2 separate regions of the Homo sapiens genome follow, and region 2 is linked to region 1. Evidence: fine-mapped expression QTL. A gene starts in region 1. The other region holds a variant in brackets. All regions are shown on one strand. Distances are between the middles of the regions. Region 1 holds the start of H1-10-AS1 (H1-10 antisense RNA 1). Region 2 overlaps HMCES (5-hydroxymethylcytosine binding, ES cell specific).

Evidence for each region. PIP is the estimated chance that this variant, and not a neighbour inherited with it, causes the effect.
Region 2: its variant is fine-mapped to the expression of H1-10-AS1 in whole blood (TOPMed, PIP above 0.99).

The regions. Positions count from the first base shown.
Region 1 is chr3:129,313,984-129,319,350 of GRCh38, reverse strand. H1-10-AS1 (H1-10 antisense RNA 1) reads right to left here and starts at 3,080. Exons shown (of 5, transcript NR_026991.1): 1 at 2,006-3,080; 2 at 1,041-1,419; 3 at 714-808. It overlaps H1-10 (H1.10 linker histone), which reads left to right and starts at 3,065. Exons shown (of 1, transcript NM_006026.4): 1 at 3,065-4,580. The coding sequence starts at 3,449. The coding sequence ends at 4,090. RefSeq lists silencers at 2,587-2,926, 3,727-3,856, 4,237-4,526.
Region 2 is chr3:129,292,779-129,298,145 of GRCh38, reverse strand. The region is part of intron 4 of HMCES (5-hydroxymethylcytosine binding, ES cell specific); the gene reads right to left. Among named protein-coding and RNA genes, the nearest start is that of HMCES, 17 kb to the right of the region's middle. The variant G/T (reference allele first, on the strand shown) is at 2,691.

The sequences.
Region 1 (5,367 bases):
TAGTCTTCTGAGCCCTGCGCCACAGGCAGCCTCCCTCTTGACAAAAGCCCCGCTCCCCTCACAGGCTGAGGAGCCGGCCCCCAGCCCGTGTGCCCACCAAGGCTGGTGTGGGGTCTGAGCTGCATCCTCCGTGTCCTCCCCCCGGGACTGGACAGCACTGCCCTGCCCACAGGGCTCCAGCCCTGTGTTGACTGCTTCTCCCCTGCAGTCCCAGCCAGGTCCCCCGGGGCACCGTGGCTGCGAGCCTGGCCGCTCTCCTCAGTGCCCGGACTGCGGCTCTACTTTGTGAGTGGCTGTACTGGCTGCGGTGCCCAGCCCTCCTCTCTCGAATCTCCTCTCCTCAGATGTCATGAAGGAGGCCACACCTGGGTCCCGCCTTCCTCCGTGACCCTGTCCCTTTGTCTCCACTAGAGCATCCCCTTCCTCCAGCACAGATGACCCAGGAGTGTCCCTGGCCCAGCCTGTGGCTGCAGCCAGCTCCAGAGTGGCATGTCCAGCATGCCACTCCTCCCCCCTGCGGTGGCTGCACAAAAGGCCAAGCGATGGCCCTGTTGCCCATGGCTGGGACTCCTTCAGGGGTATCGCTTCTGCTCACCCTTTAACTTTTCAAAAGACCCAAGCTCAAGCCCCTTGTATTAGTCCATTCTCACAAAGCTATAAAGAACTACCTGAGACTGGGTAATTTACAAAGATAAGAGGTTTAATTGGCTCACGGTTCCGCAGCTGTACAGGAAGCACAGGGCATCAACTTCTTGGGAGGCCTCAGGGAGCTTTTACTCATGGCAAAAGGTGAAGTGGAGCAGGTGTCCTACATGGCAGGGGCGGGACCAAGAGAGGGAGTCAGGGGAGGTGCAACACGCTTTCAAACAACCAGATCTCATGATAGCTCACCATCATGAGGACATCACCGAGGGAATGGTGCTAAACCATTAGAATCCACTCCCATGATCTGATCACCTCCCACCAGGACCCACCTCCAACACTGAGGATTAAAACTGAACCTAAAATTTGGGTGGGAACACAGATCCAAATCATATCACCTGCTCTGGGTCATGGCCGGGCTGCCTCCCCTCCACCTGGTTCCAGGGCCGGCTCTTTTGGGTTTCCTGCTCCCATCCCATCTCTGTACACTGCGGTCACTCCAGCTGTGGCCACCATGTTCCTCTCCCCAGAGTCCCCTCTGCACATCCTCAGAAGGCTCCTGGTCCTGAGCACCCTGATCAGTGGGCCCAGCACACACAGCTGGCTGTTCCTCTCACGTCCTCCATGCAGCCAGCCTGGCCTGGAAACAGCTGTGCAGTTTCGGCAGGCTCAGCTGGGTGGTGCTTTCAGAAACCCATCCCCGTTCTCTGTCAGGAAATTCACATGGTCCTTCTTCAAGAAGGTGGAGGCCTCAGGCCCTCAACGTTGTCCTGTGCCCTGGAGACAGTCCACTCAGCCAGTCCTTCCTGGGAAAGGAGCCCATCCTCCTCTGCAGGGACCTGGGCTGCAATCTCTCTTCTCACTTTTCTCAGGGTACCTGGTGCTCTGGGGGGCGAAGGCTGTTTCCTGGCTCCATGCCCCTGCCAGCCTCCCCCCTAAAAAACCCATCCAGGCTCACCGTTTCCTCCTAGACATAATTTCTTCCTCTCTGGGGTTTATTCCCTTGACAGGGTGACAAAATGGGGGGCGTGTGTGTGTGTGAAAGGGGTGAGCTGGAGAAGAGGGGAGGTGCTGCTAGCCCTCACCCAGAGAAGCCTGCTTGGGCCCAAGGCCACAAATGCACCAACCCACCCCCTTTTCAGGGCCTTTTACTCTGTCCACCTGTAAATGTTCCTGTCTCTCACTCTGGGAACCCCAATTCGCCAGCGTCCTGTCCCCCCTCACCCCTCCATCGCTTTTCTATGCTGGGCCTCTGGAGACTGTCTCCTGCCTGCAACCCTGCCACCCCCCAGCCCCAGCCCCACTCCTGTGCCCTACATCACCTACCCCCAAAGGGATCCCCTCTCCTACCCGAGCATCTTACCCTGGCCTCAGCTTCCCCAAGTGGAGGCTGCAACGGCTTCAACAAAAACTGTCCTGTGCCTTCTCTGCACCCCCAATACTGGAATCAGCAGAGATCGGGCCGCCAGCCTTGCACAAGCCCCCCCGGGGAGGGTGGGGCCCGGGACCCTCTCCAGGACATGGTCTCCTTTGCTGTGTTCCCGCCATCATTTCCCTGTGCACGGGAGAGGGGGAGGGGTGCACCCAGGAACTAAGAGCGAATCCCTTCCCCATCCTCTCACAGGAATTCCTCTGGGTGTCACAGCCTCACCCCCGCCCACCCTGTCCCACCCTGGAGCCCCCATTTGGCTTTGGGGGGACCGGCGGCAGCTACTTGTGGATTACAAAATGAGGCCCTGGGAACATCAGCGGCAACAGGGTGGGGGGAGCGGCGAGGCAGTGTCCCTAGAGAGGTCCTGCCGTAGTCCTCCATTCCCCGGGTTGTGCCTAGGCTCCCAGAGGCACAACCAGAACCCGGGGTGCAGCTGGAGAGTGCCTCCCATCCGCCATCCCCTTTGGATGGGGCGGAAAACCCCCGAGGATGTCCTAGCGCAGTTCACGTTGCCCCAGCCGACCACGTGAGGGCGCGCCCTGTGTTAGTTTGGACAAATTAAAGCTCCTCTTGCGGGCAGGCCTGGAGCCCCCCGGGCCGGGACAAGGCTCGGGTGCCCGTGGCGTTCTCTGGGTTGCCGGCCGCCAAGCTCCCGGCCGTGGGGCCTCCTCTGGGGCCCGCGCTATTGGCCTCCAAACGAGGTGCCCCCCTCCTCTCGCGCTCCCGCAGCCTAGGGTGCACCTCTCCGTTCGCCTTTGCTGAGCCCTTCCAGGACGCAAGTCGCCTCTCCACTGCGCCGGGAGCTCAGGCCCTGTCCGGGGCGCCCCGCTGCGGGCGCGGCGGCGCTGGAGAGGCGCGGTCCGAGAAGCCAGCGGCCGGAGAAGGGGCTCCAAGAAGCACAAGTTGGCGCTGGCCCCGGACCAGGCTGTTGTTGTTCTCAACGTGGTCCGCCATGAAGCTATAAAAAGCCGAGAGAAGCGCCCTCCCGCCAGAGCGCAGCGCGCACGCCCAGCGAGTTCCAGAGGCGCCAGTGGAAGCTGCGGCGGCGGTGTCTCGCGTTCGGCGGGATTTCTCTTCGCTCCGGCTCGGCCTAGGTCTACGTCCCCAGCTCCAGCCGCCGGCTCGGACTCGGTCTCTGACCCCCAACTCGGTCCCCTAGTCCGGCCCCGGCTCCGGGCCCCCCAACCCTCGCTCCGGCCCGGCCCGGCCCCCACCCCAGCCCTGCCGCCCGGCCCCAGGCCCGGCCGCGGCCGCTCCCGCCTGGAGCCGCCGCGCGCCCCCAGCCCCCCTGCACCCCCTCGGCCCCTCGCCTTCCTCTTCCCGGCGCGGCCCCCCGGCTTCCGCGCGCCGCCCGCCACCAATCCTCTTGCTACCATGTCCGTGGAGCTCGAGGAGGCCCTGCCAGTGACGACCGCCGAGGGAATGGCCAAGAAGGTGACCAAGGCTGGCGGCTCGGCGGCGTTGTCCCCATCTAAGAAGAGGAAGAATAGCAAGAAGAAGAACCAGCCGGGCAAGTACAGCCAGCTGGTGGTGGAGACCATCCGTAGGCTGGGCGAGCGCAACGGCTCGTCGCTGGCCAAGATCTACACCGAGGCCAAGAAGGTTCCGTGGTTCGACCAGCAGAATGGGCGCACCTACCTCAAGTACTCGATCAAGGCGCTGGTGCAGAACGACACGCTTCTGCAGGTGAAGGGCACCGGCGCCAACGGTTCCTTCAAGCTCAACCGCAAGAAGCTGGAGGGCGGCGGGGAGCGGCGCGGAGCCCCGGCGGCCGCCACCGCCCCGGCCCCCACCGCGCACAAAGCGAAGAAGGCAGCCCCGGGCGCGGCCGGCTCCCGGCGCGCGGACAAGAAGCCCGCCAGGGGCCAGAAGCCGGAGCAGCGCTCGCACAAGAAGGGCGCTGGCGCCAAGAAGGACAAAGGCGGCAAGGCCAAGAAGACGGCGGCCGCCGGGGGCAAGAAGGTGAAGAAGGCGGCCAAGCCCAGCGTCCCCAAAGTGCCCAAGGGCCGCAAGTGAGCGTGTCGGCCGGTCAGAGCGGCCGGCGTGGGCTTTTCGGTGTTTTTGTTTTTCTACCCCAAGTGACGTAGATTTTGTACGGCTCACGCCGGCCGGGGCCGCGAGGCCTGGTCTGAGCCTCAGGGAGGGGCCCCGGGTCCTCTCAGTCTTTCCCCTCCCCCAACGATGTAGCGTTTTTCGTTGTTTGCTTTAGGTTTTTGAAACAGCCCCGGCGACGCCTCTATTGGCTCTCGGCCTTGGCAACGGCCGTCGTCATGGTTACTGGCCCCTAGGCGCCGATGGCCGAGGCCGCGCCTGCCCACCGGGCGGGGTCGCTGGTTGGCCGGGCCCAGGCGCGCGGGGACGCGGAGGCCGCGCATCCTTTCCCAGCTCCCCACCCTCCTTGCCTTTGGGTGCGCGACAAACAATCGCTCCGGGCTCAGGGCTGCGCGGCTCTTCCCTTCATTCCATGGGCCTTTTTTTGGGCACAATAAAGCGTTTAAACCTTTCAGCCTCTCTCGTTTAATCTGAGTGGAATAGGGATGGGCGCCTTCGGCACGCGGGGTTGGATGGCGGGCCCCTCGGGTCCTTATACCCCAGATCTGTTGGCCAGGGTAGGCCTGGAGCCAGGGGCCTTCAGCAAGGGGTGGGAATTGCTGGCTTGGGACGAACTTAAAGTACCTGGGACAGGGAGATAGACAGGATCGGTCCCTTAGGAGGGATGGATCTATCTGCCCCCACAGGGGGTCCATCGGCCATTGCGGGGAGCGGGATGGGGGAGGGGAGAGGAGGGGGGATTAATGGGTTTTCAGAGTTAATGGTCAGGGACCTAAACTTGGCCTCCAGAGAGGTAGTTCTTACAAAGTCACACCAGACTGGCCTGTAAACTTAGTCATTCTGACTCCAGCGAGGGTTAGAGTGAGATGTGACCAGGACGAAGTGTGGTGGCCAGAGAGTGGAGTTCCTGACCACAATCCAACGTGTGGTCTCAGAAGGGTATTTGCTGTCTCTGAGCCTATTGGTTAAGCTAGAGTGCAAACGGGACCCAAAGGATTGCTGGGAAAATTAGTAGGAGCAGAAGGATCTCCAGCCCTGGGACATTCTGGTATCCAGCATGTGGGATAGTTGTCTGTCCAGTTGGGCAATAGGTCAAGGTCTATTCTAACAGATGTCCCTAAAAATGGACAACTGCAAAACAGGCCCCCAAGGGCAGTGGAAACAGGGAAGCTTCTGAAACAGTGGATATATACTCATACCAGCGTGAGTGACTGGAGTTAGGTGAGAATGCAGGAGAGCTC
Region 2 (5,367 bases), 21 kb after region 1:
ATTTAACACCTTCACTGGACATTTAGGCCTTCCGTGAACTGGCCCACCATTCTAGCTATTACTTACATTGTTAATTTGAACCCAAACCAGCTGTTGGTAAATGAAGCTCTCATGCAATTTCATGCTCCTGTGTCTTGCTGAAGCAACCTTCCTCTGCCCAAAATGTCCTTCCCACCCTTTCTTAATTGAATTGAATTTCATGCCAATTCCTAATTGCCATTCAAAATTCAATTCAAGGACTAAAATGTAGAAAGCTGGAAAGAACGTCACTTCTATTCTAACAATAAGAAAAAAGCTGGATAATATGCAAAATTATAACTTTTCTTAAACTCATCAGAGAGGTAAGTCGATCAATTTCCCTGAAATTTAAGAAAAGACAAGGTCCTCCAAGGGGCAATGGGACACAAGTACTGGCTTATTGGCAGCATCAGGAGGGAGACACAAGCCTTCATACAACCAGGTTAAGAATTCAGATAATGTTATTATCACATTTCTACAAGCAGCGTACAGGCTAGCAGGATAGTACAGAATCCCTAGGAGCTGCAAACCTCAGAGGAGTTTGCACCAGCTCACAGGCTTTTCTCCTTGGACTTTGCCAGTGCTCGAAAAAGACGGCACAGGGCAGGAGCCTGGAGGAAGCCATCCTCACTGTTGAATACCTTAAAGGCAAGCTCCTCTGCCTCACCTAATCACTTTTCCCCTAAGGAGCAAAAGTCTTAAGCTGCCAGGGAAACGGTAATAATAATAATCCCTGTCACGCCTAGGAATCAGGTAAAGACCCACAGAGGCTGGGGAAGGAGAAAAAGAAAAAGCCCCCTACGCCCTGGGGAAGACTGAGTCAGAGAGCCACATCTGCTTAAGATAGACTGAACGGAGAACTGCCTCCACCCGTTTAGCCGACAAACATTAAGTGACAAGCAGAAGCAGTCTACTTCTGGAAGAGGGAAAAGGGCACAAGAAAGACCATGTCTAAGGCACAGGCTCACAGGAAAATCCAACAACTGAAGAGAGGAGGGCTGCTGAGAAACCCTCTGGAAAGTCAATCCTTACCCTAAACACTGGATAACACCAGAGCACTTGAAAGCCTGTGTCAAACAAAGGCACTGTAGCCTGGTCGTGGTGGCTCATGCCTGTCATCCCAGCACTTTGGGAGGCCGAGGCAGGCGGATCACGAGGTCAGGAGATCGAGACCATCCTGGCTAACACGGTGAAACCCCGTCTCTACTAAAAATACAAAAAATTAGCTGGGCCTGGTGACGGGCGCCTGTAGTCCCAGCTACTCGGGAGGCTGAGGCGGAGCTTGCAGTGAGCCGAGATCGCACCACTGCACTCCAGCCTGGGCAACAGAGGGAGACTCTGTCTCAAAAACAAAAACAAAAACAAAACAAAGGCACTGTAATGAGAACAAAGCCCAAACCCAGTTCAATTCCTGACAAGACTGACTTAACCCCATATATTAATGGCCTAATAGAAGAATTTCCAGACATAAATATTATTAATCTCAGTCTCTGTCCTACATATCATCTCTGGCAACAATAAAAAATTACAAGACACACAAAAAAAGCTAAAGCAATCAACCACCAAGAGATATAGAAATTAACAGAACCAGATTCAAGAGATTATATTTCCCAGATGCTGAAATTATCAGAGAACTTGAAGTAAGTAAAATTAATGTCAAAGACTCTTGTGGAAAATGTGGACAACATATATGAACAGATAAGGAACGTTAGCAGAGAGACAGAAACTATAAGAAAGACTCAGTGAACTTAAAGATAGGTCAATAATGGCCAGGCGCAGAGGCTCATGCCTGTAATCCCAATACTCTGGGAGGCCAAGGCAGGCAGATCACTTGAGGTCAGGCGTTCAAGACCCACCTGGCCAACCTTATCAAACCCCGTCTCTACTAAAAATACAAAAAAAATTAGCTGGGCATGGTGGTGCATGCCTGTAATCCCAGCTATTTGGGAGGCTGAGGCAGAATTGTTTGAACCTGGGAAGTAGGGGTTGCAGTGAGCCAAGATTGCACCACTGTACTCCAGCTTGGGTGACAGAGCGAGACTTCATCTCAAAAAAAGAAAAAAAACGGTCAGTGAAAAGTATCTAAACTGAAACAGAGAAGAAAAAAAGAAAGAAAAATGGAGAGAATATCCAAGAACGATGGTACAATTAAATCATCTAACACATGTGTCATTAGAATCCCAGAAAGAGAAAATGGGGCAGAAGAAATATTTGAAGAGGAAAAAGCCAAGAAATTTCCATAAATTATGAAAGATATCAAACTGCAGATCCAAGCAGCAAAGAGAATAGGCTAAAACACATACACACAATGTATTCAAACAGCTGCCCTAAGAGAAAATCTTAAAAGCAGGGGTGGAGGGAGGTGGAGGGGAAGGTGGTGAGAGCAGCACACATTTATGCATTACATACAAAAGAAAAAAGACAGTTATACACTAGACTTCTCAAAAAAACTATGAGAGCCAGAGACAATGAAGTGTATTTTTTTAAAGTACTGAAAGAAAACAAAACACCACTGACCCAGAATCTTATATACGGTGAAAAATACCAGACAGTGGTTGCCAGGGGTTAAAGACAGGGAGGTATGGAAAGTGACTACTAATGGGTGTGGTTTTATTTGGGGTTGATAACAGCATTCTGGAATTAGTGATGATGGCTGCACAACATTTTGTGGG[G/T]TTTTTTTTGTTTTTTTTTTTGATAGAGTCTCACTGTGTCACCTAGGCTGGAGTGTAGTGGTGTGATCTCGGCTCACTGCAACTTCGACCTCCTAAGCTCAAGTGATCTTCCCACGTCAGACTCCCAAGTAGCTGGGACCACAGGCACGAGCCACCATGCATGGTTAATTTTAGAGCCACTGTGCCTGGCCAAGGTTTTGAATATACTAAAAACCACTGTACATTTTAAAAGGGTGAATTTTATTATATGTGAATTATATATCAATAAAAAGCATGAATTTTTTTTTTTTTTTTTTTGAGATGGAGTCTCACTCTGTCGCCCAGGCTGGAGTGCAGTGGCGCCATCTCGGTTCACTGCAAGCTCTGCCTCCTGGGTTCATGCCATTCTCCTGCCTCAGCCTCCCAAGTAGCTGGGACTACAGGTGCCCGCCACCACGCCCGGCTAATTTTTTGTGTGTTTTTAGTAGAGATGGGGTTTCACCGTGTTAGCCAAGATGGTCTCGATTTCCTGACCTGGTGATCCGCCCACCTCGGCCTCCCGAAGTGCTGGGATTACAGGCATGAGCCACTGTGCCCGGCCCTGATGATTTTTTAAAATAAAGAAATAGATACTTTTTCAGACAAAAAAAAAATCAGAATTTATTACCAGCAGACCCACACTACAAGAAAAATTAAAGTCCTTCAGGCAGAAGGGCTGTAATACCAGAGAGAAAACTGGATCTATACAAATAAGTGAAGATCCATGGAAATGGCTAAAATGAAGGTACGTGTACAAAGACTTTTCTTATTTTTTACCACTCTAAAACATAATTGACCATCTACAGTAAAATAGCAATGTATTGTAAGTTTATAGTATATGTAAAAATAAAATGCATAACAGTAGCCCAAAAGACAGGAGGAACTGGGAGAATACTGTTGTAAGGTATTTTCAATAGTAATGTAGTGTATAAAGACAGAATGTTATTAACTTAAAATGTATGCTGTAAGCTGTAGGGCAACTACTAAAAACATTTATTTATTTATTATTTTTTTTGAGACGGAGTCTCACTCTGTTGCCCAGGCTGGAGCACAGTGGCGCAATCTTGGCTCACTGCAAGCTCCGCCTCCCGGGTTCATACCATTCTCCTGCCTCAGCCTCCCAAGTAGCTGGGACTACAGGCACCCACCACTGCACCAGGCTAATTTTTTTTTTGTATTTTTAGTAGAGACAGGGTTTCTCTACTGTTAGCCACGATGGTCTTGATCTCCTGACCTCATGATCCGCCCGCCTTAGCCTCCCAAAGTGCTGGGATTAGAGTTGTAAGCCACTGCGCCCGGCCTAAAGACATTTTTTGAGAGGCAAAAATAATAAGCCAATAATAGAGATGAAATGCAATTATAAAAGATTATTCCCAAAACAGAAAGATCAGGAGAAAAGGAACAAAGAGTTGATGGAACAAATAGAAAACTAGCAAAACAATGGATTTTAACCCAATCACATCAATAATTACATTAAATTAAATGTTCTAAACACAAATTAAAAGAATGATTGTCAGACTGAATCAAAAAGGAAAATCCAACTATCTGTAGTGTAAAAATTAAGTTCAAGTCCAGGCGCAGTAGCTCATGCCTGTAATCCCAGCACTTAGGGGGTGCTGAGGCAGGCGGATCACCTGAGGTCAGGAGTTAGAGACCAGCCTGGCTAACATGGTGAAACCCTGTCTCTACTAAAAATACAAAAATTAGCCAGACATGGTGGCACGCACCTGTAATCCCGGCTATTCAGGCGGCCGAGGCAGAATTGCTTGAACCCAGGAGGTGGAGGTTGCAGTGAGCTAAGACCACACCATTGCACTCCATCCTGGGCAACAAGAGTGAAACTCTGTCTCAAAAAAAAAAAAAAAAAAAAAAAAAAGAATTAATGTATATTAAGCTAATACACATTAAGTTCCTAGAAAGAGTAACTGACTAGTAGTAAGTGCTTAATATTTGCTATTATAATTGATAGATGTTTTATAAATTAATCTTGTCTTGTACCAAATCATTTGTGTGTTACTAGACTGGCTAGACTGGGAATTTTCTTTTTTAATTTATGTTTTATTTCAATAGGTTTCTGGGGAACAGGTGGTGTCTGGTTACATGAATAAATTCTTTAGTGGTGATTTCTGAGATTTTGGTGCACCCATCACTGATAGGGAATTATCTGAGGGTGAGGCAAACTCTCTTGACTACTGAAACTGCCCCAAAGAGTTAAAAAACAAACAAACAAACAAAAACACCAATGACTAAATTCTTGGGCTTACAGGATAGCACATAAGAAAATAACTTGCTGAAACAGTGAAACTCCCTCCGCTTGTAAGATAACAAAACTGGCTGAATTGGTTGGAACCAATAACTGACTAGAGTATATGCAAAACAAGCTTGCTTATATCACAGCCTGAATTTCCACCACATTTCACACTAACTCCCCCTGAATTTGCACATGAGACCTATATGGAGGCAGGAAGAGATAACTGCACATACCTGAAGACTTTCCAGGCCTCCCCTTTCCTTCCACCAATCACCTACTAATCCCAGAATCCACTCCCTAAACATTTTTTTAATAAAAGTACTCCTTAAAGCCAGCTAGGGAGACAGAGTTGAGCTGGACTCCTGTCTTCTTGTTAGTCGACTTGAAATAAAAAACTTTTCTCGGCCA